4 linked regions of the Homo sapiens genome follow. The protein of the gene in region 3 interacts with the protein of the main gene of each other region in a biochemical or structural test. Each region holds a gene or a part of one and is shown on either strand. Other genes may lie near its edges.

What was found.
Region 1: the proteins of PAWR (region 3) and SPSB4 interact in a biophysical measurement, tested with the Homo sapiens proteins (one study listed by BioGRID and IntAct).
Region 2: of the proteins of PAWR (region 3) and DAPK3, one has a biochemical effect on the other in vitro, tested with the Homo sapiens proteins (2 studies listed by BioGRID).
Region 4: the proteins of PAWR (region 3) and WT1 form a complex in vitro, tested with the Homo sapiens proteins (one study listed by BioGRID).

The regions. Positions count from the first base shown.
Region 1 is NC_000003.12:141,060,573-141,068,719, reverse strand, and holds part of SPSB4 (SPRY domain-containing SOCS box protein 4), read right to left. Parts: intron 2,769-8,147; 5' UTR 2,616-2,768; coding exon 1,922-2,615; intron 1-1,921. UniProt on the Homo sapiens protein: Substrate recognition component of a SCF-like ECS (Elongin BC-CUL2/5-SOCS-box protein) E3 ubiquitin-protein ligase complex which mediates the ubiquitination and subsequent proteasomal degradation of target proteins.
Region 2 is NC_000019.10:3,960,398-3,968,544, forward strand, and holds part of DAPK3 (death-associated protein kinase 3), read right to left. Parts: intron 4,595-8,147; coding exon 4,234-4,594; intron 3,977-4,233; coding exon 3,847-3,976; intron 3,523-3,846; coding exon 3,474-3,522; intron 3,273-3,473; coding exon 3,246-3,272; intron 1,116-3,245; exon of another isoform or gene 1,017-1,115; intron 765-1,016; coding exon 612-764; intron 1-611. UniProt on the Homo sapiens protein: Serine/threonine kinase which is involved in the regulation of apoptosis, autophagy, transcription, translation and actin cytoskeleton reorganization. Involved in the regulation of smooth muscle contraction.
Region 3 is NC_000012.12:79,583,992-79,590,724, forward strand, and holds the end of PAWR (PRKC apoptosis WT1 regulator protein), read right to left. Parts: 3' UTR 888-6,733; downstream 1-887. UniProt on the Homo sapiens protein: Pro-apoptotic protein capable of selectively inducing apoptosis in cancer cells, sensitizing the cells to diverse apoptotic stimuli and causing regression of tumors in animal models.
Region 4 is NC_000011.10:32,431,647-32,440,437, reverse strand, and holds the start of WT1 (Wilms tumor protein), read left to right. Parts: upstream 1-4,898; 5' UTR 4,899-5,077; coding exon 5,078-5,738; intron 5,739-6,397; exon of another isoform or gene 6,398-6,673; intron 6,674-8,791. UniProt on the Homo sapiens protein: Transcription factor that plays an important role in cellular development and cell survival. Recognizes and binds to the DNA sequence 5'-GCG(T/G)GGGCG-3'. Regulates the expression of numerous target genes, including EPO.

The sequences.
Region 1 (8,147 bases), on a different chromosome or scaffold from region 3:
GGGTGTCAACGTCAGGCCTTAAATCTCAGCTACCATATTATTGGTGCTACCACACAAGAGCTTACAGCAGCAAAAAGGGGACCTGATACTATCCCATTTTGCAGATGAATAAAGTGAGTCTTAAGGAGTAAGAGTGACTCACCAAAGACACAAAACCACTGAGCACTTGGAAATAAGTCACATCAGACTCCAGAGCCTTGGTACACCAAGGCCACTCTTCTAGTCCAGTGATTAATTCCAGCAAATAAATTTTCCAATTCCATTAAATAAAGATTGTTTGTTGTTTCTGTTGGTTTTCTCACCACTGGGATTTGCCTGGTCACTATGTCTCAGAAGGCTCCAGACACTTTCCACAAGGCACTGTGATGACTAAATTAGCCCTTCTCAGGGACATAATCATCAGTTCCTAGATTTAACCCATTAAACAGAGAAAATGGAACAACATTTTGCCATTCAATGGCAATTGTAGGCAACAACCACGGAAATAAAATATGAGCAAGAATGTCGACAATTATGCCAGAGTGCTGAGCATACCAGCAGCCACTTTTCCATTAGCCTGCCACCCTTGGAAACCATCAAATGTCCCCTTCCTGTGCTCCAGTAAATGTAAATTTTGCTTGAGTAAAATCTTGTCCTTGACTTCTTTTCTGGAGAAGTGTTACTCTTTTCTGGAGTGTTACTCTCAGTCCCTCATCTAAAGGGGAGAACATAGGAAACGAGTGGACTTCAGGGCCATCAGAACTGGGGGGAACCCTGATTCTGGCTCTCTGTAGCTCTGCTCTTAAGTTTTCTTATTTCTAAAAGGAGGATCTGCCTCAGGGGCTGGTAATTACATCTCTTATTTAGAATGAATAAACTGGAAATTCTAGCTTTCAGCGCCACCTCTGAGAGCTTCATTGGGGTGTGGCAGGAAGTCTGGATTGGTGCTAGTGGGCTGATGTTGGGGAGTGTGCAAGCCCACAAGTGCCTGGCTCCTGGCCCCTCAGCTGGGATTCAACTCAGGACAGGCAGCCACGTGTGCCTCTGTCCAGAGGCCACCCTGTCTCCCTGAGTGACTCCCTCCCAAAACCAATAACCGTCTTTGTTCCTACACTTTTTATCTTGCCGGATGGTTGTGTATATTAAATGAGAGGAAGCCATAGAGTTGTCAGGGGTCAACCCCAGCAGCTTGTGGGCTGGTTTGTAGCCTGCAAGGGTATTTTGTTTGCCCATATAGACTTTTCAGCAGCTGTCAACTTTAAAAATTGGAACAGTTCACACAAGCTAGATTTCTGGGCTCTCTTGGAAAAAGTCACAAGATTCCACAACCCAGGGTTTTCATTCCCGTGAGATGACAGTCGGCTGGAGATAAGAGGCAGCTGTCCCCTTTAATAGTTGGCCCATAAGCGCTGGAATTGGGGTGTTCAGCCTCTCAAATACAGTAGATGGCCAATAAAGGACGGTTATCAGTACTTATTACTTATCAATAACTTGAGTACATGGCATTTAAGTGCAGGGACTGGGGACTTGTCACTGTCTTCCCATTGTGACTAGCTTGGGTCATTTGGTACAACCTTTGTACAGACTGGAAGATTGGTAATTGGCATCAACACTCAAAGCCCCTGTTGGGTGCCAGTCACTGTTCTGAGCACTTCACACATGTTATCTAGATCTTCACAACTGTGAGCTAGATTACTATTACTTTATTTGATCGTTACAACTGTGAGCTAGATTACTATCATCGTGATGCTTTTGCCGATGGGAGAACTAAGGCACAGCCCCAAATCACCAAGCCAGCAGAGAGTCAGGATTGAAACCCAGGTCCTGACCATTCCTCCACATTGCAGGATCCTCCCAAGTGGCGATGGAGGTGTGGCCTGCCCAGCTTCCCTAGGGCCTGGCAGCCTCTGAAAGCCCTGCCCCCCAGCCCAGCACAACTTACGGTCAAGGCCGTTGATGTAGCGCATGGTGACTTCACAGTGGCCCCACACGGCACTCACCACCGGGTACAGCTTCTTGCCCTTGAGACCTCGGAAGGCCACGCCCAGGTACTGGCCATCCACGATGAAGCTGAGTGTGCCCTCATCCATGTCCAGCACCACGAGCAGCGAGTCGGGCAGCGCAAAGGCCTCGTCGGGCCCCAGAAAGGCCGGGTAGGCCACGCCGGGCTGGTTCTTGCCGTCGTGGTAGAGGCGGCTGCGGCCCAGGTCCCAGCCCCACGACTCGGCGTCACTGCCTACCAGCGCCGTGTAGCCCACGGAGTGCAGGGGAGCACGGGCCGTGGCCACACCAACTACAGCGTGGGTGCCGCGCTGCCGAGCCGGCCAGTTGATCTGCCAGGCGTGCAGGCCGCGGGCGTGGCCCACCTTGCCGCGGATGCCGTCGGTGCTCTGGGCCACGGGGTGCCGGTGGAAGGTGAGCCGGTCGTCGTCCTTGACGAAGACGTTGAGCGAGCGGTCCTCGGGGTTCCACGCGTGCCGCAGCTGCACAGCCAGCCCCGCCGCTGGCATGTCCAACAGCTGGTCCAGCCGCGCCGGCCGCCCGGGCTCTGCACCCCGCAGCTCCCGCTTGGCCGGCCGCAGCGCCGGCTCTCGCACCTCCACTGACTTGAGGCTCCCCGAGAGCTTCTGGCCCATGCTTCACTGCGGGGAGGAGGCCGCTGCAGGCCACCGCTACCTCGTGGGAGCCTCCACTCCCCGTAGCCAGGAATGGGCCACGGGGCTGGGAACCAGGCTTCCGGACGGTAGACCTCCACAGCCTCTACCGGGCTGCGGCAGGGGCCCAAGCTCCTGGAAGGAAGCAAAGGGCACGGGTTATAGCAGCAGCATCAGCAGCCAGTTGCCAATCCCTTCATTTATGTCCATGCCTTGGCTGAGCCCTTTGCATGCACAATAATAGTAATAATTCGTACACTCATATCTGGCACTAATCTAGCACCTGCCATATGCCAGTGTTCTAAATTATTTATGTTTATTAGTTTGTTTAATCCTTAACATCTCCCTATAAGAGATATACATTATTATTCACAATTTACAGATGAGAACACTGAAGTCAGAGAGAGGATAAGCGATTAGCCGAAGTCCCACTGCAAATAAGTGACTGAGCCAAGATTCAAACCAAGGTCATCTGGCTTCAGGGTCTGTGTTCCGGACCTAGAACAATCATAGGGAGTCTGATTTTAGAAATAAGGCGTGAGCCCAGAGCAGTTGTGACTTGCTCAAGGTCAGAGCCTGGATGAGAACCCAGGTGCTTTTGATCCCAGGGGACAAGCCTTGTGCCAAGGCTGGGGGGCACACAGCTGCTCAAGACACAGGGCTGTAGGGTGTGGCCCATTGGTTCCCAACCCTGGAGTCCTGGGGAGCCTAAATAACCTCCTAAAATGTAGCCAGGCTTGAGCGGCAAGACACAGAACAAGGTGCAGCAGGGTCACCAGGGACATGGACATCAGGCAGCGTGGGAAGATGGGGTGAGAGCTCCATGGGAAGGTGAATGGAGGTCAATAGAGGTGAGGAGGAAGGATAAGGGAGCCGGTGTCCAGGCTCTGGAGCCAGACAGAACTGCGTCCAAATCCCTCTCTCCATCTCCTACTGTGGGTCCACAGGAAAGCCTCCTAGCCTCTTGGATACTCCAGATTTCTTGCCAGTAAAAAACATGAGGATAAAACACCTCCCTCTGGTGATGGGGGAACTTGAGAGACCATAATATAAAGGGTCCTGGAACTCTGCCGACAGGTTTTCCTCTCTGGCTCTGTTCTCTGGGCATCCCATGTGGATCCCCTCCCTTTGGATGGGTGAGCTCTTTGTTCGATCAGGTAAATACCATTAACAGCACTGACCCCAGACTGCCTTCCCTGAGACAGGATCCTGGTTTTCATGGAGAAGGAATTGGCCACCATCACTAGGAAACCAGACAGAACCCAAGGAGCTCGGACTACTTGGACGGGCCCTGGGTATGGAGAGAGATGGAGAGCCAAGCCCTGTCCAGAGCAGAGGCGTGTGCCCTCCCCTCCCTGGCCTGAGAGCTGCTGGGCCTAGAACAACTTCTCCTGAGCCAGATGAGGAGATGGATGGGTGTTTTTCATGCCCTGCCCTCCCCAGCCTCAACCTCCCACCCAGACAGTGGTACACCCCTAGCCAAAGTCCAGGTAGGGACGAAAAGAACTCTGCTGCCACACAGCACAGACAAGTATCCTGTGGGTTTTTCACCATTCCATTTTATTCTTAACTCTCATACTCTTCCCTCTCTATTGTCAGATCCCAGCTTCAGCAGATGTTGACCCTATTCCGAGAGCTCTGGCTAATGTTCAATCTGAGGGAATACCAGAACACATAACAATTTGCAACACTAGGCAGTTTTAAGATAGCAGAATAAAGTTACTCCTTTTCATATCCGAAATCACCCAAAATCCAGGAGAAAAAAAGAAATGCAAACTCCTTCTTCAGCAAACTAGAACACATTTATAACCTGAAACACAGCTTATAAGGAAAGGCTGCCCAAAACAGGTAAGGGCTACCAAAAGCAGTGAAGATCAAAAATACTGTGAGAAAACACCTAGAGAAGACACCTGTGGTGGCAGATCTCAGACAAAGCTGGCAGAGCCAGCCAGGAGCTGGCATTCCCTGAAGGAAAAAACTAATGATCCCTTATCAGAAAAAATGGGAACAGGGCATGTGGTCTGGTAGTGGGAGCTGCCTCCTACACCCTGGGGGAAGAGGAGGGCAGGGCCAACAGAGGAAACCACAGACCCGCCATCTTCACAGGAAGCAGTGTGTTGGCAAGGCAGAGTGAGAGGAGGGCTCTGAATTGGGAGAAGCCCACAGCTGCAGAACTCTGCTGACAGAGTAGAAGCAAAGACTAAAGGAAGTCACTACAACAACCCTGTGAACAAAGTTCCTGGGAACCAGGGAGCAATCCTGCCCTCTTCTTGGTACCTCCTCCACATGTGTCTCCTGCAAAATGCTGATCCAAGAAGGTTTACCTCTTTCAAAGAGGAACCAGCACAGGATATAGTCAAAGATGCTATAGAAGAAAGAAAGGAATAAACGAACAGGACAAAACATGGCAAACCAAGCAAACTCACCTGAAAAAAGCTGCCACAAAGCAGATAAAAATGGGAACCAAATTTGTAAACTAATTTTGTGATTGATTATTTCAGAAGGGAGACACCTAGCATGGTCTCAACAAAAGATTAAATCCATTTTGGCTAGTTATAAAGGTAACCTCCAGAACTAAAAATAAAAATACACATCTTGCAGATACAAACCTTGAACATAATACAAAATAAAACAGATCATATACTGAAAGATTTTGTTAGAAAGCAAGAGAGGCAAAAAGGCATAAAAGCATGAAATATGATAGTAAAACTAAGACCGAAATATTGACCATGTCATTAAATGGCCATAGTAAACTGCTAAAAAAAGATTATAAGACTGGGGAAAAACACAAAACCCCCAACCATATGCTACATATAAGAGACATTCCCCAAAGCAAAGTGATTTAACAATTTTGAAAATAAAGGAAGGGCAAACACATAACAGGGAAGTGTGAACTCAAACTAAGCAGGCACTGTAATCTTAATATTAGGCAAGTAAAGTTGATTTCAGGACAAAAGGTTTTAAGTGAGACAAGAATACTTAATAATAATAAAGAATGCGATCCACAATTGAAGACCGAACTCACCAAATAGCACCAAAATTCAGAGCAAAAGCTAGAGGAAATATAAGGAGGGGCCTTAGACAGACACACATCAGAGGCATGTAATTTTAATTTCCCTCTTCTAGCTCATGATGGACCAGTGGACCAAAATTAAGTAAAGACATAGAAAAACCAAATTACATAATTAATAAGACAGATCTAACTAATGTGTTCATCAAATTCTATACCTTGAAAACAAAGAATGCATGTTCTTTTCAAGTGTTCATGGAATGATCAAAAAAATTTTCCTGTATATTAGGTCACAAACAAAACTTCAAAAAAAGCAAAAATAATACAGTATCTGATAACACAGAAGGAAAACTAGAAATTAATCACAAAATTATAGATCACAAAATCCTATCACTTAGGCATTTTAAAAAATTCTTTAAACAACTTGACCCCAACTCAGATCAAAAAAGAAATCCATATAGAAATTGCAGAATATCTGGAATACAACAATAACAAAAAGCATTCCACATACTAGAACCTGCGGGGTGCCTCTACAGCAGTTCTCAGAGGAAATCATGGCTGATATATTTATGCTATTAAATTTTAAAAAATGAATGGAGCATAATAAAATAGGGAAATAATAGAACTAAGCAAAAACTAAAGAGATGGTTCTTTGGGAAAAACTACCACAAAAACAAAACAAAATCAATAAAACATATAAACTATTAAAGCTAATCATGTAATGTATCATATTATATTATGTTATATTATTATATTACTATTATATTAATCTATCATGTTGATAGTGTGTACCCTTGATATGATATAATGAAATCTTCCTTTGGGTGTCTTCCCCAAAACCCATAACCTCACTCTAATCATGAGAAAAACAAAGGACAAATTCCATCTGGAGGCCATCCCACAAAATACCTGACCTAACCGGCAAGGTCATCGGAACCAAAGTCTGAGAAACCATCATAGTGAAGAGGGCCCTAAGGAGACCTAACAATTCCACATAATGTGGTATCCTGGATGGGATCTGGAACAGAAAAAGGATATTAGGGGCTGGGCTTGGTGGCTCACACCTGTAATCCCAGAACTTTGGGAGGCCAAGGCAGGTGGATCATTTGAGGTCAAGAGTTCAAGACTAGCCTGGCCAACATGGTGAAATGCTGTCTCTACTAAAAAAATAAAATTAGCCAGGTGTGGCGGCACACGCCTGTAGTCCCAGCTACTTTGGAGGCTGAGGTGGGAGGACTGCTTTAACCCAGGAGGTGGAGGTTGCAGTAAGCCAAGATCGTGCCACTGCACTCCAGCTTGGGTGACAGAGGGAGACTCCATCTCAAAAAAAAAAAAAAAGAAAGAAAGAAAAGGAAAGAAAAAGAAAGAAAGAGAAGAAAAAGGATATTAGGTAAAAACTGAAATCTGAGAAAAAAAGGAAATCTGAAAAAATATGTTAATAACAATTATTAATATTAATTATTAAAATAAGTTAATAATAATGTATCAATACTGGTTCATTAGTTGTGATAAATGTGCCATACTAATGTAAGATGCTAATAATTGGGGAAACTAGGGTGATAAATGGAGTGAGCATATGGGACCTCTCTGTACTATCTGTTTAGTTTTTCTTTAAATCTAAAACTATTCTGAAGAAATAAAGCTCATTAATTAGAAAAGGTTAAATAAATGTCTAAATTTTAGAGAATACAAAAAAAGGACAAAAACTAGAATTCACCTCTTTCTCCTATCTCATTAACCAGATATAAACATTGTCAGCTTTTGGAGGAATTTTGCTTTATTCTCTCTTTTTTTTTGGTCTATAAATTATAATGAATTTTCTTTTTAAAAATTGGTATAATGGGCCTTTATTTAGATTATTTCACCTAAAAATTATGTAATTTGCATTTTCACATATCACTAAATATACTTTAAATGCATAAGTAACTAAATTTTTAAAAACACATAAAACATAAACCATATAATCATTTAATGGGGGAGAAGACAGAAATATGTAAAACAAGAAATGAAAATGGGAAATAACAAAACGGTGTAGCTGAAAGCACTTGTAAAAGAAGTTAGACTTGTTTTAACATAAGAAAAAATTTGCAACACAAATTACCAACAAATATATGTCAAACTCCTACAAATGAATACAAGTACAAAATATGAAAAGATATCAACAGTTTACACAAAAACAAATGGTTCCTTTGAAAAGATACTCAATGTATACTGAAAAAGAAATGAGTTAGAACTCCATTGAAATGCCATTTTTGTCTATCAGCTTATTAAAGGTCAAAAAAATGGATAACGCATGCTTGGAGAATGTGTGGAACAGAAGACAGACTCATACATTGCTAAAGTGGATATAAACTGGTTTAGCCTCGGCAAATGGCAAATTAACACCATCTTTCAGAATTGCAAATATACAGACCCTTTGACCTAGCAATTCTACTTCCAGCATTTATTCAGATATGTTCTCAAATGCACAAAACTACCTATGTACACAGCACATGCATACATAC
Region 2 (8,147 bases), on a different chromosome or scaffold from region 3:
TGTTTACAGGAAAACAAGTGACCTGGAATTTTACATGGATCCTTACTTTACACACCGGCAACTAATTAAAAGTTTGCTAAAAACACAGCAAGCAGCCAGACACGGTGTCTCACGCCCGCAATCCCAGCACTTTGGGAGACCAAGGCAGGCAAATCACAAACCAAGGAGGTCAGGAGTTCAAGACAAGCCTGGGCAACATGGTGAAGCCCTGTCTCTACTAAAAATACAAAAATTAGCCAGGCGTGGTGGCGGGCGTCTATAATCCCAGCTACTTGGGAGGCTAACGCAGGAGAATAGCCTGAACCCGGGAGGCAGAGGCTGCAGTGAGCCGAGATCACGCCACTGCACTGCACTCCAGCCTGGGAGACAGAGCAAGACTCCGTCTCAAAAAAAAAGACTCCGTCTCAAAAAAAAAAAAAAAAAAAAACCATGGCAATGGCCAGCTTGGGCCACCAGTTTATCAGTTTACTCTCTCCAGCCCAAGGGGTAAGCAATGTCTGATCCCCAGCCGCAGGGAGGTGGCGCTGGGAGGAGAGTCCTCTGGAGCCTCCGTGGGTGGAGTGGGCCTGTGTCCCATGTCCCACCCCGTGCCCCCTGCCGGCCCCTCGTACTTGGGATCTTTGACGAGCAGCCGGCGAATGAAGTCCTTGGCCAGCTCGCTGGTGTTGCTGAAGTACTCCTCGTCGAAGTCGTAGTTCACGGCTGAGATGTTGGTGAGCGTCTCCTGCTTGGTCTCGCCCAGGAACGGGGATGCACCGCTCAGGCTGCGAGACAGGCGTGGGGGCTCAGTGGGGTCCTGGGCTCCCACCACGGCCGCGCCGCCTCTCCGGCTGCCCACGACAGGCGGAGCACAGAAGACAGGCTGACGGCAGGTGCCTGGGCCACTCACACTCCTGAGCCCTTAGAACCTTCCTGCAACGATCCCAGACACCACCCAAGAGGCATTCAAAATCCACCCCCCCACCCCGCCACTGACAGCAGCAGAAATGAACAGGCAGAAGTCTCCTTGGAGACTCGAAGTATCTGTGCAGACGCAGAGCCCGAAAGCCCCCAGTGCTCAGTAACGCCGAGGGGAGGGTAACTGCAGTGGGGAGCCCGAGCCAACACCTTAGCCAAAGGATCAAGGTCAACAGCCCGGCAGTGAGAGGCCCCAACAGCGTCTGCCTCCCAGCCTGACGCTGGGAGGGTGACACAGCATCATCCCTGGGGTTTTGAGCAGAGACACTGAAGCCCCGTCTGATCGTCTGATCGTGACAGCGCACGAGACTAAACGTGGACTCAGACGCCTTCTGCAAAACACCTGACCCGTGAGCACAAGTCAGGGTCAAGGTCATGAAAGCCAGACAGAGGAACAGCCTCAGACTGGAGGCGGCGAAGGAGCTGAATGGCTAAATGCCGTGTGGGGACCTCAGAGAGGACAGGAGTGGAAAACGGGGGTGTCTAACCACCTCTGGCACTTTAAATTTTTTAAATTTTTTAGAGACGGAGTCTCGCTCTGTCACCCAGGCTGGAGTGCAGTAGCGCGATCTCGGCTCACTGCAAACTCCATCTCCTGGGTTCATGCCATTCTCCTGCCTCAGCCTCCTGAGTAGCTGGGACTACAGGCACCCGCTGCCACACCCAGCTAATTTTTGTATTTTTAGTAGAGACATGGTTTCATCGTGTTAGCCAGGATGGTCTCAATGCCCTGACCTCGTGATCTGCCCTCCTCAGCCTCCCAAAGTGCTGAGATTACAGGCGTGAGCCATCGCACCCGGCCCATCTAGCACTTTTGTGATTAGCGTAGCACCAAGGCTAACGTCTTGGTGTTCATAACGTTCGTGTTCATGAAAAATGTAAACTGAAGGAGGAGGAAGCTGCAGGGGGCGTCTGTGCTGTTTCTGTTGCTCCTTTGTAAGTCTGAATTATCTGAACATTTAAAAAGAATACAAACGGTCTAGCCCATCTCCTGAAGCCTTTGGGTCCGCTCACGCACTACAGCGGGCTGGGCCCACGCCATTGTTTATTTCCTTGCTTACTGAATGAGCTATGCCCATTCAATATGGCTGGGCAACACAGTGAAACTCCACCTCTACAAAAACTTTTAAAAATTAGCCAGCTGGGCACGGTGGCTCACACCTGTCATCCCAGCATTCTGGGAGGCCAAGGCGGCCGGATCACTTGAGGTCTGGAGTTCAAGACCAGCCTGACCGAAATGGTGAAACATCGTCTCTACTAAAAATACAAATAATTAGCCAGGCATGGTGGCAGGCACCTGTAATCCCAGCTACTTGGGAGGCTGAGGCATGGGAATCACTTGAACCCGGGAGGCAGAGGTTGCAGTAAGCCTGAGCTGAGACGGGGCCTTGGCACTTCATCCAGCCTGGGCAACAAGAGCGAAACTCTGTCTCAAAAAAAAAAAAAAAAAAAAAAAAATTAGCCAGCTGGGTGCAGCGGCCCACGCCTGTAATCCCAGCACTTTGGGAAGCCGAGGCAGGCAGATCACCTGAGGTCAGGAGTTCAAAACCAGCCTTGATCAACATGGTGAAACCCCGTCTCTTCTAAAAATACAAAAATTAGCTGGGCATGGTGGTGGGCGCCTGTAATCCCAGCTACTCAGGAGACTGAGGCAGGAGAATCGCTTGAACCTGGGAGGTGGGGGTTGCAGTGAGCAGCTGAGATCGCACCACTGCACTCCAACCTGGACAACAAGAGCAAAACTCCATCAAAAAAAAAAAAAAGTCCGAGCATGGGAGCATGGTTGTGTGCACATGTAGTCCCAGGTACTCAGGAGGCTGAGGTGGGAGGATTGCTTAAGTCTGGGAGGTGGAGGCTGCAGTGAGCTAGGACAGCACTCCAGCCTGGGCAAGAGAGTAAGACCCCGTCTCAACAAATAAAAATAATAAACAACAGCAGGCCCACGTGTGGCCCAGGGACAGGAGCCAAAACCCAGCGTGGGGTCGGACCCCTTCCTTGCACTTCGAGAGGAGGCTGGGCTCCCTAGCAGCCAGAGGGACAGGAGCACACACGACCCCCAACCCGGAGCCTGCTCAGCCGCTCTGTGAGTGTCCTGCCTTCAGAACTCTCCAGAAGCCTCTGTGACAGCAGCCACAGAGAATCACTCATCCGTTCACCCGGTATCCCCTGAGTACCCGCGATGGGTCACAGCCAGGCTGGGGACCCCTGGCGTCCACATGAGACACACGGAGCCGGGGACCCATGCCAGCTGTGTTGCACAGCCGAGGGGGCCCCCGCCAGGTACTCACAGGATATAGGTGATGACACCGATGCTCCTGGGGACAGACAAGAGGCAAGGGTCAGCGCAGCGTGGGGCCGCCCACCCTCCCAGGACCGTGGCGTCCAGCGCCCCTGTTCTAGGGCAACGGTCCCCCCATACCCCAACAGCAGCAAGGCCCCGCTTCATCCCCAGCTGCAGCACTGGCCTGCGCTCCAGGAATGCAGGGAGGCCCGGTGGGAGCAGGTGGTACACTCACCACATGTCCGCCTCCAGGCCCAGCGGCTCATAGTTCACAATCTCTGGGGCTGCAGAACAGGGAGATGTGGGTCAGGCACTGGGGACATGCTGGCCAAGGAAGAGGCTCAAGACACAGGCATGGGGTCAAGGTTCTCACATGTCGCAGCCCTTGGGGGCATGAATGCGGCAGAGCTGGCCCTCAGGGCCTGACGGGTAGGACAGCGGGGCTGCACCAAATGGAGGCCCAGACCTCCCGCAAAGCCGGGCCCAAGAGGGGTGGCTTCAGGGCCGAGGACGCGGCACCCAGCACCGGGCATGACCCACCCCACGCACAGCAGGCAGCCCCAGACCACCCTCCCCAGGCCGGGGCTGCCCACTGGGCAGGGCCTCACCCACAAACTCCGGGGTGCCGAAGATGTTCTTGAACTCGTTCCCCGCCTCGATCTTGTGCGCGATGCCGAAGTCGATGAGCTTGATTCGTGGGTTGGGCACGTTCTTGTCCAGCAGCATGATGTTTTCCGGCTGGGGTGGGAGGAGGCTCAGCAGGGAAAGCACGGGCCTCCCCCACCCTCACCCCCACGCTCCCCAAACCTCACCCTCACGCTCCCCGCAACCTCACCCCCACGCTCCCCCAACCTCACCCCCACGCTCCCCAAACCTCACCCCCACGCTCCCCACACCTCACCCCCACGCGCAGGAGGTGCCTTCCAGGCTCTTCCCCGCCCCATCCCCACCCCCACACTGGCCAGGCCGGCCCCACAGGGCCCTACAGGGCTCACCTTCAGGTCAAAGTGTGCGATGCGCTTAGAGTGCAGGTAGTGAACGCCGTCCAGGATCTGCTTGAGGAACTGGGTGGCCTCGTCCTCCGTCAGCGACTCCTTCTCCGCCAGGAAGTCAAAGAGCTCCCCGCCAGAGACCAGCTCCAGGATGAGGACCACGTCCGTCTTGTTCTCGAAGATGTCGTGCAGGGTGATGATGTTGGGGTGCCGGATCTCCCGCAGGATGTTCACCTCCCGCTCGATCTCCTCCCGGCTCACCCCACGCCGGCTGGATGACAGGCGGCGCTTCTTGATGAACTTGGCTGCGTACTCCTTGCCCGTGCCCTTCTGCCGGCACTTCCGCACGATCGCAAACTGGCCGCTGGAGGAGGGGGAGGGAGTGAGTGGGGGTGGAGGAGGCGGAGGGAGTAAGTGGGGGTGGCTGGCTCCCCGTCACCTCCACTTGCTCCTCTTGGGCGCGGCCCTGCACCAGGCACTTGAAGGACATGAGCTGGCCACTGCGGGGGTGCAGACTCTGCGCCTTCTCAGAGAGCAATTCCTTAGCGCCCCACACCATCAGACGCGGCGTTCCCACCCCTCCCAGGGCTATGCCCAGCAGGTGTGTGGAGGGGAGTGCAGAGCCACACGTTAACACCATGGCACCGGCGTATTTTTGAAAAGTGAAAGAATGAACAGTTCAATGCATATCAAGAGGGAACTGAGGGGGCCAGGCGCGGTGGCTCACGCCTGTAATCCCAGCACTTTGGGAGTTCGAGGAGGGCAGATAACTTGAGCTGAGGAGTTCAAGAGCAGCCTGGCCAACATGGTGAAACCCTGTCTCTACCAAAAATACAAAAAATTAGCTGGGTGTGGTGGCGGGTGCCTGTAATCCCAGCTACTTGGGAGGCTGAGGCAGGAGAATCGCTTGAACCTGGGAGGCAGAGGTTGCAGTGAACTGAGATTGTGCCACTGTACTCCAGCCTGGGCAACGTAGCAAGATCCTGCCTCAAAAAAATAAAAAGTGCAAGGCAAGTGCCAGATCCGCTTTTTTTGTTTTTGTTTTGTTTTGTCTTGAGACAGGGTCTGGCCCTGTTGCTCAGGCTGGAATGCAGTGGTTCAGTCATGGCTCACTGCAGCCTTGACCTCCTGGGCTCGGGCAATCCTCCTGCCTCAGCCTCTCAAGCAGCTGGGACTACAGGCACATACCACCACACCCAATTAATTTTTTTTTCTTTTTGTAAGGATGAGGTCTCACTATGTTGCCCACGCTGGTCTCGAACTCCTGGGCTCAAGTGATCCCTCCCAAGTAGGTGGGACTACAGGAACACACTACCACACCTGATTTATTTATTTTTTGTAGAGACAGGGTCTTGCCGTATTGCCCAGGCTGCTTTGGAACTCCTGGCCTCAAGAGATCCTCCCACTCCCCCACCCCAAGTGTTGGCAGTACAGGTGGAGCCGCTACATCTGGCCAGTATCCGCATTTTAAAGAAACCAAGGCTGAGAAAAGGAAAGCAACTAGCCCAAGGTCATGCAGTCAGTCAGTGGCGGGAGGATTCAAACCTTCAAACCAGGTGCTGCAGGCTCCAGAGCCCAGGTGCTCTAACAGGAAGCAGACAGCTGCTGCTGGGTACCGGGTTCCTGCGTGCCTACCTCCCGGCTCCACGCTGTCTCCTGCTAACAGACCCAGCTGTCCCAGGGCAGCCTTTGCCGCTCACTCTCAGTCTGTGGGACTCAGTGGCCCAGGAAAGGGGTGGAAGGGGACACGACTGGACCTGGGCAAGCAGAAAACCACGCCTTCCAGCCCAAAGAGACCGGTCCAGTCCACAGGGCTCTGAACGCCTGCTGGGAAGAGAGGATCTCTCTCTCCCTCTGCTGGGCTTGGATCCAGGCTCGCGGCAGGGGCCACCACGTAGAAGGCTACCTAAGAAGCCTGCCTAAGAACAGACCAGGCCAGGAGAGGGGAGCCACCAGGCACTGCGGGTGGCACATAAGCCCCGTCATTCACTCTGCCAGGGCGCCTCCTCCATGCTGGAGTGGACTTCGGCCCCGGGGACACAGGGCACCATATGCACCAGCACCCAGTCACACCTGCGGCCGCTGCACACCTGGACAACCTGGTTCTGTAAACCACGCCTTTCCCTGTTTTGCTATTGCCAACCAGATTTCAGGTTCTGCCACTGAGTCCTCCTACAGCAACAGCAGACCACAGCCGCCCACCTCCAGACAGCCCCCGGTCTCACTGGCCACAGACTTGCTCCTTAGAGGCAAGGCCACTGGCAGGCTCTCAGTTCCTCTACGGAATGTGAAACGTGCCTCATCTCCCCAGCCGGGAAAGAAACTCCCCAAGAGCTGAGCCCACCCTCTTCGCTTCTCTGTAACTTCCCCAGCCCCCAGCGCAGGTGGGGGCACAGCAAGCCCTCCTCAGTGATGGTCTCAGGTGTCACTCCCAACCCACTTCCTAAGTGCCTGCCACAACCCAGACACGACCCAAGCGTGGCCTACACACCGACAATTTCTACTGATAGAGTTCATGATGTTTAAAAATGCGGGCTGGGAAGCCGGGCACAGTGGCTCACGCCTGTAATCCCAGCACTTTGGGAGGCAAAAGCGTGCAGATCACGATGTCAGGAGTTCAAGACTAGCCTGACCAACATAGTGAAAGCCACGTCTCTACTAAAAATACAAAAACATTAGCCGGGCGTGCTGGCAGGCATCTATAATCCCAGCTACTCGGGAGGCTGAGGCAAGGAGAATCGCTTGAACCTGGGAGACGGAGGTTGCAGTGAGCTGAGATTGCGGCATTGCACTCCAGCCCGGGCGACACTGCAAGACTCCGTCTCAAAAAAAAAGTGTGGGCTGGGGCCAGGCACAGTGGCTCACACCTGTAATCCCAGCACTTTGGGAGGCAGAGGCGGGCAGATCATTTGAGGTCAGGAGTTCAAGACCAGCCTGGCCAACATGGCAAAACCCCGTCTCTACTAAAAATACAAAAATTAGCTGAGCACGTTGGTGGGCGCCTGTAATTCCAGCTACTTGGAAGGCTGAAGCAGGAGAATCACTTGAACCCGGGAGGCGAAGATTGCAGTGAGCCAAGATGGCACCACTGCACTCCAGTCTCGGCAACAGAGCCAGACACCGTCTCAAACAAACAAACAAAAATTGCTACATTCTGGGCCTTCATCTTGCACTTCATGTATCTCTGAGAATGTTCCAGACCACTACCTGAAGCAGTGCCGTCAGAACAGCAGACACTGGCCACCCAGAGCTGTCAAACCCGTGAGGTGTGGCCAGTCCCGAGAAAAACTGCGACATGAAATACACACCAGACCTCCAAGGCTTCACGGCAAAAACAGAAGGCTAAATACTTTTTTTAAAATTATGAATTTCTGTTTGTTTGAGAGATGGGGGTCAACTTATGTTGCCCAGGCTAGTCTTGAAGTCCTGGGCTCAAGCGATCCTCCCGCCTTGGCCTCCCAAAGCGCTAGAATTACAGGCGGAAGCCGCCGCACCTGGCCCTGCCTGGTTCTTTTTACAAGCTGCATCCTATTCCAGCCCTGATGCAGTGGTTTGGGGAAGGCCATTTAAGAGGCTGCTGTTCCCAGCGGGGTGCGGTGGCTCACGCCTGTGATCCCAGCACTTTGGGAGGCCGAGGCAGGTGAATCACCTGAGGTCAGTAGTTCGAGACCAGCCTGGCCAACATGGTGAAATCCTGTCTCTACTAAAAATACAAAAATTAGCCAGGGGTGGTGGCGGGCTCCTGTAATCCCAGCTACTCGGGAGGCTAGGCTGGAGGCCGAGGCTGCAATGAGTCGAGATCGCATCACTGCACTCCAGCCTGGGCGACAGAATGAGATAGTGTCAAGGAAAAAAAAAAAAGGCTGTTATTCTGGTAAACGTTCTAGCAACTACCCCAGTCTTAAGTCATTCCATCC
Region 3 (6,733 bases):
CTCCCTCTCCAATTTTCTTCACAAGTGTTTTCCCCCAATAAATCTCATGCATGCCTGCTTCTTAGGGAACCCAAAGTAAACAGATGATATTAAATAATTAATATTAATTTTGTTAGGTATAACATTGTGGTTATTCTTTTAAATTCTTACTATTAGAGATATATACTGAAGTATCTGCAGGTGAAAGGATAATTGGAGTTTAACTTTAAAACACCCCAACAAAAAAGAAAAAGGAAGCAGGACAGATAACAAAAAATTAGCAGGATATTGCTAGCGATTTTCTGTACTTTTCTGTGTATCTGAAATATCCATAGTAAAGTGAAAAATACCTGCCCAGAACTAAAAACTGTCAAGGGCATCAAAAACAAGGAAAATCTAAGAAACTGTCACAGCCAAGAGAATTTTATGGAGACACAGGTACTAAATATAATGTAGTATCCTGGACTGGACACTGGAAAAGAGAAAGGACATTAGGGGAAAATTTAGGAAATCTGAATCAAGTATGGACTTTAATAATCGTGCATAAATATTGGACGATTAACTGTGATAAATGCACAGTATTAATGTATGATGTTAGTAGGAGAAACTTGGTGTGGTGGCATATGAGAACCCTCTGTACTATCTTCACAATAACTTTATAAATCTAAAACTGTTCTCAAGTTTGTAAAAAGTAAACAGGAGTAGCTTATTTATTTATATAAAAAATGATCTTGAATCGATAAAGAGTCAATTTTATCTTTACTCATCAGGATGCAACACTGTGATTTCTCCACACTGATCAATTAGCTCAAAAGTGCTATTCATTTTCTGAGCTCACAGAAAGTATATTTTGAAGATTCAGGCTCCTCAGGGACCACCCATACAAAACACATACAAAACAAATTGTATAACTGATGAAACATACATTTATTTTTTCCAATCAAGTCTTAAAAGTTTGATGAAAGCGCATTATTGTTACCAAAAGTCTTCAGGCAATAACAGAGATAAAACTTAACACAGACAAACAATGATTTTATTCCATAGTCTCTTGGACTTGAGAATCCATTTGAGTTTCAGAAAGAATACTAAATTAATGGGGGTTATGTCAGGATGCCAATGTCCATGCTGAGGCTTCTCCTGATACAATCTTTTGCAACATAACCAACAAAGATCAGGAGCTTAAAACAAAACAAAACAAAAACAAACAAAAAACAAGTTCATGTTATTTCTACAATGTCCAAAAAGAAAGACCAAGATCTTTGCTTAAAAATAGAAATGCATACTGCAGTGGCTCAAAAACTTAGGCCTGCATCAAAATTACATGAAGCGCTTGTTAAAACAGATTGAGCCCCATCTGCAAAGTTTGTGACTCAAGTGTTGGGTGGGGCCAAATAATTTGTATTTCTAACAGGTTTCTAAGTGAAGTCAATGCTACTGGTGTCAGAAACACACTTTAAGAACCACTGGCAAAACATTTAATAAGACAATTCCATGATAAAAGTATATCATAACATAAAACCACAAAACTTTGGACTCAAAGACTAGCTTTGTGATACAATGTCACCTTACCAATCTGTACACTCCACAAGTTTTTAAAAATTAAACAATATATAAAGCACCTAACACAGCCTGGCACATACGGCTACTGAATTACTAATGAATGTTATTATGCTATCATAAGTTATGGTTAAAGTTATGCTCAAATTGTTACCTGAGATGCTTTGCTTCATTGAAACTATATTGATTATTTTTATTTTTGAGGTAGAGTCTTGCTCTGTCACCCAGGCTGGAGTGCAGTGGTGTGATCTTGGCTCACTGCAGTCTCGACCTCCCAGGCTCAAGCAATCCTTCCCCCTCAGCCTACCAAGCAGCTGGGACTACAGGTGCATGCCATCTTGCCCAGCTCATTTATTTTTTTGTATAGACGGCATAACCCTGTGTTACCCCGTTGGTATTACAGGCATGAGCCACTGCACCTAGCCAGGCATATTGGTTTTAAAAGGGTTACAAGAAACAAGATGCACTTTTAGGCCTCCTATAATCCTGCATTTCCAAAGCATCCATTTAGTCATCTCATCAAAATTTTCATTGATTTAAATAAGTTAATATGAACAGACTGACATAATTTTACTTTAATGATGTTGTTTATTGTCCTAAGCCATCCATACACAAAACGTTTAATGTGTTATGGAAGGCTAACAGTTTTTCAGCTTTTCTCAATACTTTCAGCCATCCATACATAAAATGTTTAATGTGTTATGGAAGGCTAACAGTTTTTCAACTTTTCTCAATACTATCAGATGAATGTATTCTTACCAATCATGATTTACGTTTTTCAAATGTGGATTTCTTAGGCCTTTGACTGATAGCTTTAGGCTTTTGCACTACACAAAGAAAAAGACACCTTTCTATTCATTTCTTAATAATTTGTTTCCATAAAGCTAAAATGTCCACTGATGACATAATCTACCTTTGGTTAATCACAGCAAATAGTTCACATTTTAAAGGAATGCAGATATTTGGATAGAAGCCTCTAACAATGTAAATATTGTGCATTTCAAGTTCCATAGTGTGTCTAACCAGGGATAGCAACTGATTATATGTGGATTAACAATAGTGAATAACTGAGCACATATTAACATGAATAACATACACAGCAGTCAAAACTTACTGTTTTTCATATGTGTAAAGTAAAAATTCAATCTATCTTTAACCGGCTCATACTGTTTTCATGTTGTTCAACTATTTGACACAAAAGGAGCTTTTTCCTTTCTTTAAAAGGATTTTGATTCAGTCATAACAGATTTTTGAAAGTGACAGTAAAATTATGCATTTGGTCCAGGATTAAGAGGGAAGTTTTGCTTGCTAGTGTCTATCTGGTTAGACATCAGAATAAAATGAATGGACTGTAAAGGATCTTATAACCAGTCTCTCTCTTTAATATGAAGGCCCAACATTACATAATTCTTTTTAAGAGTTGACCAGGAATGAAATGTAACCTCTTTTAAAGATGAAGAAAAACTGAAAAAATGAGATTAAGAAAATATGTGGGTAGTTTACAGCTGCTGATAGAATTGTGTGCACGCGTGCATGCATGCATAAACACAAAGTGAATCTAGAAGGGAAAAAATTGAGTTTGATGAAGTCTAAGATGAAAGGTTCCATTTCATGTAAGATTATGTGACCTTGGAAAAATTTACTGGCTTGCTAGTGGAATACGTCCTTATATAGGGACTTGAAGAGTTTATCTAAATAGACTGACTTAAGGATGCTTTTCCTCTTGTTAGACTTGTATGACATTACTGAGAAGATTTAGAGTTCTAGAAGTAGAGAAGACTGATTAGCTTGTGCCTGTGTATGAAGAATGACAAATTAAGACAAAAGGTTATGTAAACCATTTACTAAAAAAGTCTAAATTTTTATATTCCTAGGCCCCTACTTATCTTTTACAAACTTTGAAGGACCTGAAATTCTTTGGACACCATCAGATTTAGTTTATAAGAGTTCTGATTTTGAATCAAGAAATTATTCATGTAGTTTTAAAACACAATTAAAATTTTCAGTCAGGCTGAACTTTTGTGCACTTCCTCATTTATTCGAGAAACCCCACCACTAATGTATTTAGACCTTAATATGATGGCTTTGAGTCTTAAATCATTGTCCACCTAAAATAATATACCAAATAAAGATTTTTAAAGTGCTGCATATGGTTTCTGTAAGAGGTACATAATTAGATTACCAGCATTATCCTTTAGCTTCAAAAGTAAAACTCATAGTCAGGATTTTACTGATAGTACAGGAAGAAAAAAAATAACCACTGTTGAAAAATAAATGAAAAAAATTTTATTGAGTATTACTTTATACATGCAAATTGAAAGTGAATCTATATTAAGTTGACTATTCCACAATAAAAACCTATGAAATGGGAATGATCAAAGCTGTCTAACACAATACTAATGTGTTCAATAAATTATCCAGATGTTTTTCCACAAATATTTGGATTACCTGAATTAGCTGATTCTTCAGCAAAAGTTAAATTTTAGCTTTAATATGGTAGCAGCAGGATGCTACTTAAATTTAGAAGAAAAACATAAGAATAAAAACCCTGAATAGCATAGCCAAATCTTCCAAGAAATAAGTTCACCAAAAAAGTAGCATACACCTATTTGGTATCCAGAGGAGGAAACAAAACACAGGCACTTAATCAACATCCACCAAGTGATCATCACTAACATTCTATTATTACCAGAGTAACTGTCGATATGTGAACTGTAGATTAGAACAGACTTACATATCTAAAAACAAACCAGTAATCAATAATATATACAGAAATACTAACTTGAAGTCACATTTAAATACCATCAACAGTTTGGTGTATCTGATATAACTGAATTCATTTCATCACTGCTATAAATTCCTTAAAAGTGTTCTTTTCCTAATTAACATTATCTTTAAAAAATGGTAGATATTTCCCAGTATGCATCAGTTTTTTCACTCCACCATTCAGTAAATGTTGTAGCAAATTAAATAGAACCTATTAACTAGATCTAAAAACAGTGGCTGAATACTTAACACAAAGAAGTACTTTTGAGTAAACTATTCAGATTAGACAGGCTAATGCTAAGACTGCATTTTGTGCTACTGACATGCACTATATAGATCGTACACTACTAGATGGAAAGTTGGTCCATGTCCATTTATTTAAAGATTCTGTAACACCTGTAATAGTATTTAATACAGCTCCCACATACTATATTCCTCTCACATAGACATAGTTATTTTTAGTGGGGATAAGGATATGACTTTAACATGCTATGAGATTCTAGCTAAGTAAAATAAAAACAATATGGACTCAGATTTTCTTAGGAGATATTAGTTCAAGTTTTTAAACTGGGAAACAATCAACTTCCATATATCCAGGAGAAACTTAGCATGGGGGGAGGTGCCTTAGTTGATGTGCCTGATAAGCAAACTGTTAGTTGTCTATTAGTATTATGTTTTCGGCTTAATGTAACAACAAAAGAAAGTTGTCACACTACCTCTCAGATAATATCAATTACAATCTTAGAGACTGTAATTGGGAATACAATCCTATAACAAGTTATTAACAATATCATGAATAGTTATTAAGTAAGTGCCAGCACTACATGCAACTTACTGGTCACCAACTCAGAACCCATAAAACTATACACATATGCACAAAAAAAAAACTCCAAAGAAAGATACCTATCACTGTACATATGAATACTGTCCAGGATATCAGATCAATTATCAAATCCAAGGTCTCTGCTGTTTTGTCTTACAGTGTTGAATATATGAATGCTTCTCTATTACACTGACTTGTACTATTTTCAAGAAATTAAGTGGATTCAAAATCTTACATTTTTATTTCTAATTATAAAATCCAGATTAATCCAAAAAACACAAACCACATGTAACCGAGGTAGGTTTTTCACCTTAAGAATACATTGCTTCTACCACAATTAAAAATTTTTTAAACTGAAGAAAAAAAAAAACTACATTGCTCCACATACCTGATACTTAATTTTCTATGTTTGAAACTACTTGAACAAGTGTGACAGTGCTAATCTACTATATTTAGTAAATCCCTTAGTACCTATAAATACACACCCAAAAGCCCTTCCCTCCTTCTCTAATGGTAACTGTTGTATAATAAAATTGTCAACAACTCTAGAAAGATGAAATAAAGATTACTATAGCAATCTTCAATTAATTCATTTCAGAAATCAAGGAGGCAAGTCATGTTCATTTTAAAGATGACAAACTTACTATTTTGAAAATGAGCTCATAAATACATTAGAACTTTGAATGTGCTTTATTATGCCACAAATTCCCAGGAGATTTAAGAAATAGTATTTCTGAACAGGAATAATAATTTCACAAATACTAACACTTTATTGACAATAGACAAGTCTTTTAGGGTAGTGCACATGTACTTAAAAACTACCTTCTACCAATCTCAACACTTTTTATAAATTTTCAGGTGAAACTGTAGCAGATCCTACTTTATTTTTCAATGGTTAGTGTAAAATTCTGTATGTAAAATAAGTACATATTTTGAGATGGAAGAAGGACTGCATGTGAAATGCTTTGCCTAAGTTGTAAGGCTCCTGTCTTTACGCTATCATTAAAGGCCAAAAAAATCACTGCTAGAAATGTTCCCCAAAAAATTCTTAAACAGCTCAGTCTTTAAAAGTATTAATAATTTTTTTTTTTTTTTTTTTGGAGACAGAGTTTCGCTCTTCTTGCCCAGGCTGGAGTACAATGGCGCAATCTCAGCTCACCGCAACCTCTGTCTCCTGGGTTTTCAAGCGATTCTCCTGCCTCAGCCTCCTGAGTAGCCAGGATTACAGGCATGCGCCACCACACCTGGCTAATTTTGTATTTTTAGTAGAGACGGGGTTTCTCCATGTTGGTCAAGCTGGTCTCAAACTCCCGAACTCTGGTAATCCACCCGCCTTGGCCTCCCAAAGTGCTGGGATTACAGGCATGAGCCACTGCACCCAGCCTAATAACTGATATAATTTTTTTAAGTGAAATGAAATGTTCCTTTATTTACATATGAATTAAATAGAAAATTCAAAGTAATTCTTTTAATAAAAACCCATATACTAATATATTTTAAGGTTGGATACTAACAGCATTTTCACAAGATCCAAAGTGTGGATGACGAACTAGGCAATAAGGACATGTGTGCCACATAACTAAGGGTAACTAAAGGAAGATGAGTACC
Region 4 (8,791 bases), on a different chromosome or scaffold from region 3:
GATTAAGCTGGAATGGCGGTCAAAAAAGAAAAGGGAAAAAAAATTCCTAGATGCAGGTAGATTTCTATAATTAAGCCATTTCTCAAAGGGGAAGTAAATGTGACAGAATATTTAGCAAGCAAATTTACTGAGGAATATTTTGTTCCTATATAATTAAATTCAACACTGAGGTAAAACTGACAACTATTAAACTGAGGGCAGTTGGGAGAGGGAAAGGGGATGAGATAAAATCCAGTCTATAAAACATTCCATTATCTTTTATAGGTTAAAAAACACAAAAGAAATACTTGGAAAGAATTGTCTAAGACGGAAAGATTTTAAGATTGTGTGACTTTTTTTTTTTTTTTTTTTTTTTTTTTTTTTTTACAGGTGCAGAATAATTTTTTTTCCCTCTCTCGTGGTTTTTCTTTTCCCCATTTTTTTCCCCTGTTGTTTGCAAAGTTGAATCTGGGGTCAGGAGTTCTAATTGTAACCTCAGACTGGAATTCCAGATGGTGCGCTCAGGACTGGAAGCAACTCTCAGTTCATCAATTTCATGGGCCTACGTATCTGCTCTGGCCACGGCCTGGCCTCCATCCCCACTGTGGCATTAATGCAGAACAAATTGAGACATATCCTCTATATAATTAGTTCCAGAATTTAAAAAGATTTACGGTATAATAATAGAGGCAGTGCCGCGGAATCCTTTCACTGAGGACTCTCGGGGAGCTCGGGGACCATCTCGCGGTGGCATCAGAACAGACGAGTAACCCCAGCGGCTCCAGGCACTGCGAACTGGGGGAGAGGGGGAAATTTTGCACCGCATTCGGCAGTACCTAACGGTTCCGGGCTCCCAGATAGGGTCAGCGAGGAGAGTTAGGACAGTAAGTGGGGACTGGTTAAAAAAAATCGACTTAATTTTGAAATGATCAGAAGAAGCTGGGAGTAGTTATCACAAAGCCCCTCCCTTGCCCCCCCCTTTTTTTAATTGAAGGAATGACGTTGAAATTTTCACCGCCAGCGCGGGGCTGGGAACCATCCTAAACACTTGCCCTGCAGCCCCGAGTGGGCAGATTCCGAAGAGTTGGAGTCGGCGGGGAGGGGAGGAACAGCTGTTGGGCTGTCTTGCGCGTGGGGCTCGGGGCGCGGGCCCCGGGGAGAGGCGCTAGTCGAAAGCTTGTTCCTCTCCCGCGACAGGCAGCAGCGAGGTCGAGCCACTCTTTATTACGGCCTGCGGGCCCCGCGCGCAGTGTGGCTGTCCCCGCCCTTGACCGACCGCAGCGCTTTGGGGTGTTTATTCAGTTGTCCGCGGCCGCTGGGTGACTCCCGGAGGGCGGCCCAGGCGTGCGCACTGGTCCCTGGGGTTGCGGCTGTAGCAGCCCAGCTCCGCGCTCTGTCAGATGCAGTGGACAGCGCCGGGGTGAAAGTAAGGGTTGAGAAATCCTCACTGCCCTGCTCCTACCCAGCCTCGATTTTTTCATATTGCAATAATTATGCACCTTCGAGGCCGGGATGCCTGCGCTTTGCCAGTGTATCAACGCCACATGGTTTTCCAGGGGCTGTCCTCGCCTCTGCATCCCATTAGCTCTGAAGAGGTAGAGGGGTGGTGGGTAAAACCTCCAACTGGACGTTGAGAGACCCGGGTTTCAGCTCGGCGTTGCCACTAACTTGTTTCCTGTCCTTAAACAGTAGTAGTAACAAAAACTGTAAAGTTGATTGAGTCAAAGGCCCACACTGCTCTCCTATCTAATCCTCAGAACAACTCTATGAGGTGGGCGCTAGTATCCCATTATCCCGTTTGACCAGTAAGGAAACTGAGGCTCAGAGAGACTGCGGAACTCGTCTAGGGTCACACAGCTGTTGGTTACCTGGCAGAGCTGAGGTTCCATTCTGGGGCCACCAACCCCTTGCTCTTTACCGCTGCGCTCCATAGACTGCCTCTCCTTCGGCTGTCTGGGCCTCAGTTTCCTTCTCTGTAAAACGAGAAGTTTAATCTGCAGCTTTCTTTGCCAATCGGTGGTTCAGACCAGGAACCTCTGCTACAGATCTCGGCGCTGACAGGGGTAAGAAGGTGGGTGAAAGAAGGGGGCGCCCAGTTTTCCACAGCCTGCTTTTCTCTGGGACCTCGCGAAGGGCGGGCCTCGCGAGCTAAAGGAGGTACAGGAGAGCGCCTATCGTCCGCGGCGGGTGAAGGTGCTACCTGCCTTCGTGCTAGGCTGTGAGTCCTGGTGCTTAGCTCAGGGCGCCAAGGCCAGTGTAGCTGGCATGTCCCCCTTGGAAAACCTCAGGTCTCCCGCAGAGAACGTTACCCACAACAAAGAAGAGGACAGAGAGGCATGGAGCGCCCTGCGACTGCAGGAGTACGTCAGTTCCCCAGCGCTGGCTTAGTGTCGCCTGGGCTTCCGGGCATGTGGATCCGTTGGGGTCGTACGGAGACTTCCTGTCGGGTCCCTGGGGTCCTCCGACTGCGGCTCCTCAGCTTAGCACTTTCTTCTTGGCCCCGCAGGCTGCAGGGAACTCCTCCCACCTCTTTAGTCGGAGAAGTCCAAGTCGGGCGAGGGGGCACCCCGGGGTTCGCACCGGTGCTCTTCCCCTCCCCGCCCCCACAAGGATTCTGAGAAAATAAATGGCAGAGGAGAGAGGAGTTCTACATTTGCTTGGCTCTCCTTTCCTCCTATCCACCCCTACATCCCTCACCCCGGGGCAAAAACTTATTTTTGAAAAATGTTGGCAGAGATTTACGTGTCTTTGCCTTACCTGGGTTTCACAAACACAACGACTCACATTCAAGCCAGCCTCCCTTCAGATAACCTCCTCTCCCCCCGCTAAAAGTGCCAAGGATGGTAAAAGAAGAAACAATCTCAATCTTTTCGTTTGGAAATGAAAGTCCCCGGCTTTTCATAAAGGGCTCCTCGCCCCTCACAGTTGAGTCCTAGTTAAGAAAAACGACTTCCAAGTAGAAATAATAGGCGGGGAGAAGGAAGGGAGATACAGGGATCTGGGGGGTTCTTAGGGCAACTGGCAGTGAATTTTGTCTCGAGAGTCCTTTCTCCACTCAAAAAACCAAACGCGCGAGCCCCGCGAAAGGTTTAGGGATAGATCGTGTGGGAGAGGACTGAGCAGAGAGCGTGGGGGCAGTGTCTTGTAGAATCTTTCTTTTCTTAATAATAATTTTAAAAGCTTCTGAGTGGAGACGACGCAAAGTCAAGCAGCAAAGGTGGCCTGGGAGGCAAGCGGAGGGCTCAAGTGCCGCATCTTTACCCTCAGGGTCTCCTGCGCCTACGGGATGCGCATTCCCAAGAAGTGCGCCCTTCGAGTAAGTCCTGGGCCCGCACACACTTCGGGTCCGCAGCCAGAATTTAATGGCGACAACGTTTATGCAATGCAAGCTAAAAACCAAAGCGTAAAAAATTACTATGTCATTTATTGAAACGCCATTCTTTGTCAAACTGCAACTACTTTGCTTCACATAAGTTTGGCTGGAAAGCTTGCAGCCCCAGCCCGGGCCAGCCAGGTACAGGAGGCCGGACTGCAACCGGTTGCTTCCCTCCCGTCGCGCCTGGCCGTCCCACGCTGCGCCGTCGCTGCTGCCTCCTGGCGCCCCTGGGATTTTATACGCACCTCTGAAACACGCTCCGCTCCGGCCCCCGGTTCTTCTCCTTGCCTAGGGGTTGTTTCCCAATAGATACTGACTCCTTTAGAAGATCCAAAAACCAAACCAAAACACCCCCTACCCGCCCCAAACACCTGCTCTGGGGCGCGGGGGCTGCCAAACAGAGACTAGACGAAGGGAGTCAGATTTAGCGAAGCTCTTCGAGCTCCCAAAGATTCGAACACTAACTCGCGCCCGTGGGCCGATGGAGGTTCTCCCTACTCCACTCCTTGGTCCCCTTAACTGGCTTCCGCCTCCTGGTCAATCACTGAGCAACCAGAATGGTATCCTCGACCAGGGCCACAGGCAGTGCTCGGCGGAGTGGCTCCAGGAGTTACCCGCTCCCTGCCGGGCTTCGTATCCAAACCCTCCCCTTCACCCCTCCTCCCCAAACTGGGCGCCAGGATGCTCCGGCCGGAATATACGCAGGCTTTGGGCGTTTGCCCAAGGGTTTTCTTCCCTCCTAAACTAGCCGCTGTTTTCCCGGCTTAACCGTAGAAGAATTAGATATTCCTCACTGGAAAGGGAAACTAAGTGCTGCTGACTCCAATTTTAGGTAGGCGGCAACCGCCTTCCGCCTGGCGCAAACCTCACCAAGTAAACAACTACTAGCCGATCGAAATACGCCCGGCTTATAACTGGTGCAACTCCCGGCCACCCAACTGAGGGACGTTCGCTTTCAGTCCCGACCTCTGGAACCCACAAAGGGCCACCTCTTTCCCCAGTGACCCCAAGATCATGGCCACTCCCCTACCCGACAGTTCTAGAAGCAAGAGCCAGACTCAAGGGTGCAAAGCAAGGGTATACGCTTCTTTGAAGCTTGACTGAGTTCTTTCTGCGCTTTCCTGAAGTTCCCGCCCTCTTGGAGCCTACCTGCCCCTCCCTCCAAACCACTCTTTTAGATTAACAACCCCATCTCTACTCCCACCGCATTCGACCCTGCCCGGACTCACTGCTTACCTGAACGGACTCTCCAGTGAGACGAGGCTCCCACACTGGCGAAGGCCAAGAAGGGGAGGTGGGGGGAGGGTTGTGCCACACCGGCCAGCTGAGAGCGCGTGTTGGGTTGAAGAGGAGGGTGTCTCCGAGAGGGACGCTCCCTCGGACCCGCCCTCACCCCAGCTGCGAGGGCGCCCCCAAGGAGCAGCGCGCGCTGCCTGGCCGGGCTTGGGCTGCTGAGTGAATGGAGCGGCCGAGCCTCCTGGCTCCTCCTCTTCCCCGCGCCGCCGGCCCCTCTTATTTGAGCTTTGGGAAGCTGAGGGCAGCCAGGCAGCTGGGGTAAGGAGTTCAAGGCAGCGCCCACACCCGGGGGCTCTCCGCAACCCGACCGCCTGTCCGCTCCCCCACTTCCCGCCCTCCCTCCCACCTACTCATTCACCCACCCACCCACCCAGAGCCGGGACGGCAGCCCAGGCGCCCGGGCCCCGCCGTCTCCTCGCCGCGATCCTGGACTTCCTCTTGCTGCAGGACCCGGCTTCCACGTGTGTCCCGGAGCCGGCGTCTCAGCACACGCTCCGCTCCGGGCCTGGGTGCCTACAGCAGCCAGAGCAGCAGGGAGTCCGGGACCCGGGCGGCATCTGGGCCAAGTTAGGCGCCGCCGAGGCCAGCGCTGAACGTCTCCAGGGCCGGAGGAGCCGCGGGGCGTCCGGGTCTGAGCCGCAGCAAATGGGCTCCGACGTGCGGGACCTGAACGCGCTGCTGCCCGCCGTCCCCTCCCTGGGTGGCGGCGGCGGCTGTGCCCTGCCTGTGAGCGGCGCGGCGCAGTGGGCGCCGGTGCTGGACTTTGCGCCCCCGGGCGCTTCGGCTTACGGGTCGTTGGGCGGCCCCGCGCCGCCACCGGCTCCGCCGCCACCCCCGCCGCCGCCGCCTCACTCCTTCATCAAACAGGAGCCGAGCTGGGGCGGCGCGGAGCCGCACGAGGAGCAGTGCCTGAGCGCCTTCACTGTCCACTTTTCCGGCCAGTTCACTGGCACAGCCGGAGCCTGTCGCTACGGGCCCTTCGGTCCTCCTCCGCCCAGCCAGGCGTCATCCGGCCAGGCCAGGATGTTTCCTAACGCGCCCTACCTGCCCAGCTGCCTCGAGAGCCAGCCCGCTATTCGCAATCAGGGTAAGTAGGCCGGGGAGCGCCCCCTACGCGCGGGGCAGTGGCGCCAGGGACTCTCCGCTCTAGGACACCCCCCTCTCCTACCCCTTTTGACCGCAGCTCTTACCCAGCTGCTTCCCAAGGGCCGTGAGGATAGCGGAAGCGGCGGCTGGGGAGGAGGCCGGAGAGTGGGAGTGCACGCAGGCACTGGCCCCCGACATCCTCCAAAGCCAGGCAGAGCTAGGAGCCTGACTGTTCGCAAGAGCCGGGAGGGCGTCTGGGGCCCCTTAGAGTCCGAGAGATTCCGGGACTGCTAGTCCCCACGGGAGTGGAACCAGGAGACCGGCGCAGTGTCTGGCTCTGCCTTGGGGAGAGTTTTGTTAATTAAGGAAACGCCAAATTGTCACCAAGCGTAGCGCTTTTCAGACGTCTGGACTCTGGATTCGGAGTGGGACCAGCGCGGGGGTGAGCGCCTGTGCTGTGCTGCCTCCGCAGCGCTAAAATGTCCAGGAGCACCTCCAGCCCTTATAATACGGTGTTGGCACACACTTAGGTGCACATTAAGTATCGTAGAGAACTAGAATGAGCACATGCACCTCCAGTAACTAAATGGCTTTCTGGAACAGCGTCGTGTCCGTGGATAGCTCCCGCGTATGGTAATACAGAAGTGGATCTTCACTGGGCTTCGCTCAGGCGGCGGCCACGCAGGTTCTGGGGATGGAAGAGAACTTGACTTATCCGAGTCCAAGCTATGCGGGACCAGGTTCTACCGCAGGCAGTGGAAGGAGGCACGAGCTTTGGCCTTTCTTTCAGCGCATCTGGGGCGCCTCTTCATCTTGTAAACGCGGGGCTCAGCTGGGACAGTATTTCTTCAAGACCTGGGGTTAGAACAAGGACAGGGTTATTCGCTGTGCTTAGTCAGGATACAAGGAGGGAACTCGGCACACGATAAGTATCAGGTTGGTTTCTCATCCCGCGCCGATGCCCGCCCACCTCTCTTTCGCCTGGGCGGCGCGGACCCGAACCTGCGGAGCCCCTGTAGTTTGCCCTCTTCATTTATTTTCAGTGGATTTCCACGCTATTGAGAACCTAAGCCAGTTCGGTTTGATTCGGTAATTTAGTAAACGCTTTACTAATACAATGGCGGATGCTTTTCCTGGAGCAAAATTACTCGAGGGCCTAGGGACCGGGATGTTTTTGGAATGCGTGGGAAGCAGAGTGTATCTTTTGCAGGAGGTACCTTCGCCCAAGGCTCGGGAGAAGGGCTCTGCCCTTGTTGCCCGCCTTCACCCGCGCCTTCTAAACGCGCGTCTTCAGGCCGCTCCTACCTTAGCCTAACCAGGAGCACCCGGCCCCCGCGAAGCCTTGGAGAAATCGAAACCGCCCTTTTCTTCGGGAGAATCTGGGATCACTGTCCTGTGGAGGAACCGCAAGCAGACCCAAGGGTTGCCTCCACTCTATGCTTTTAGTTAGTGAAATTAGTGTTTTGTACTCAAGGGGCGTTGGGACAACTTACTGGTCGCTGAGGCTTGTGTTCTTTGATCAGATCGCGCCACCTTTGTTTAGCAGGCTGGTGTTACTTTTGGGGAGTTTCTAGGTCTCAGTGTCCCCGTCTATAAGAGGACAGCTGAGATGGGCAACCTGGAGATTGGGTCCGGCTTGAAGTTATACTCCATAGATGCAGAAGCGCTACCCACCACCCTCTTGGGGCTTTAAATATGGAACTCGGCAACCCATCTAAACATCTGTGACTGAGAAACAATGAATCCGAGAGCACTGTCTGCATGTGTGCTATTTGGAGGCGGTTGAGAAACCATCGAATCCATGCCCCTGGGGCACAAAATACTACTACGCCATTATCTTTTTAGTACTTCTAGGGGATTTTTGAAACCTGGGTTCTGTCGCTTCGTTTGGGTCCCTTGTCCAGCCCTTTTCAGGGCAGGTCTGGTGCCTGGGATCTTATCACATGTCGTGGGGGGTGGGACTGTGGGTTTTGCAGCCAGCAGGCATTACACTTCTGGAAAATATCTGGATTCTTCTGTAATATACAGGCGTGGCTGCCATGGAGAAAAAGTTAAAAGGGGACCAGGACTAGTAGGTGAATGTATCCTTCTTCTCCACCCTGGAGAAAAAGCCCAATGGAGAGAGGGCCCTAGATTCAAGTCATATAGCCTGGAAGCACCATCTCCAGGTTTAAGTTTTGTCTTGCAGTGAAAACAGATGGGTCCATCTTACCCAGCCCTTGAGGCTCATTGGGCAGCTTGGATGTGAGAAGCGCTCCGGCTGCTATCCTGGAGTGGGCAAGGGTGGCCCTCGAGATTCTGGGTTTATTCTTTGGATTTCCAGGGTTCCTGCTGCTTCCCCAGGAATGCAGGGCCTGGCCCAAGACTTGGGCTGTGAGAGGCAAGGGCATCAACTCTCAAAAATGTGGAAATGGCCATCAGAGCGCCAAGGCCAAACCCCAGGGGAGAGGAATCAAGGCCGTCTCTGGATCCCTAGGGCAGTCTAGCCATGGTGCACAGGCAGGGGCAATTGTTGGTACCCACTCACAACCGCCCAAAACTTCACAAGCATGTTCATATTTTAAATTCTTAAATATTATATCTTGCATCCTAATCTTGTAAACATTAATTTAGCAAACATCAATCGCCTACTTGGTCAGGCACTGGGTTCTGAATATTAATTAAGACAATGGCCTCGAGAACCTTTGCAAGAAGCTCACCAGCTAATCCTGGAGAGGCCCCTTGTTTTGGATGAGGAAATCCAGGTTCTATGAGATTAGGTGGCAGAGGTGGGATTTGAACCCAGACCATGCTAGGGTGTTTCTACTCCTTTTCCAGGGATCTTGGCCCCACCGTTGAGATGGATTTCTTCTGGCCTGCGGGAGGGGCACCAAACTCTTAGTCCATGTGTGGGGGTTGACGGGTTTGTGAGGGCAGATGTGGGGTGAGGACTTGAGTAGCCCCAGACTAGATGCAAGGCTTAAGGAGGAGGGGAAAAAAGCTTGCTTGGGCCGGACGCGGTGGCTCGAGGCGGTTGGATCACCTGAGGTCAGGAGTTTGAGACCAGCCTGGCCA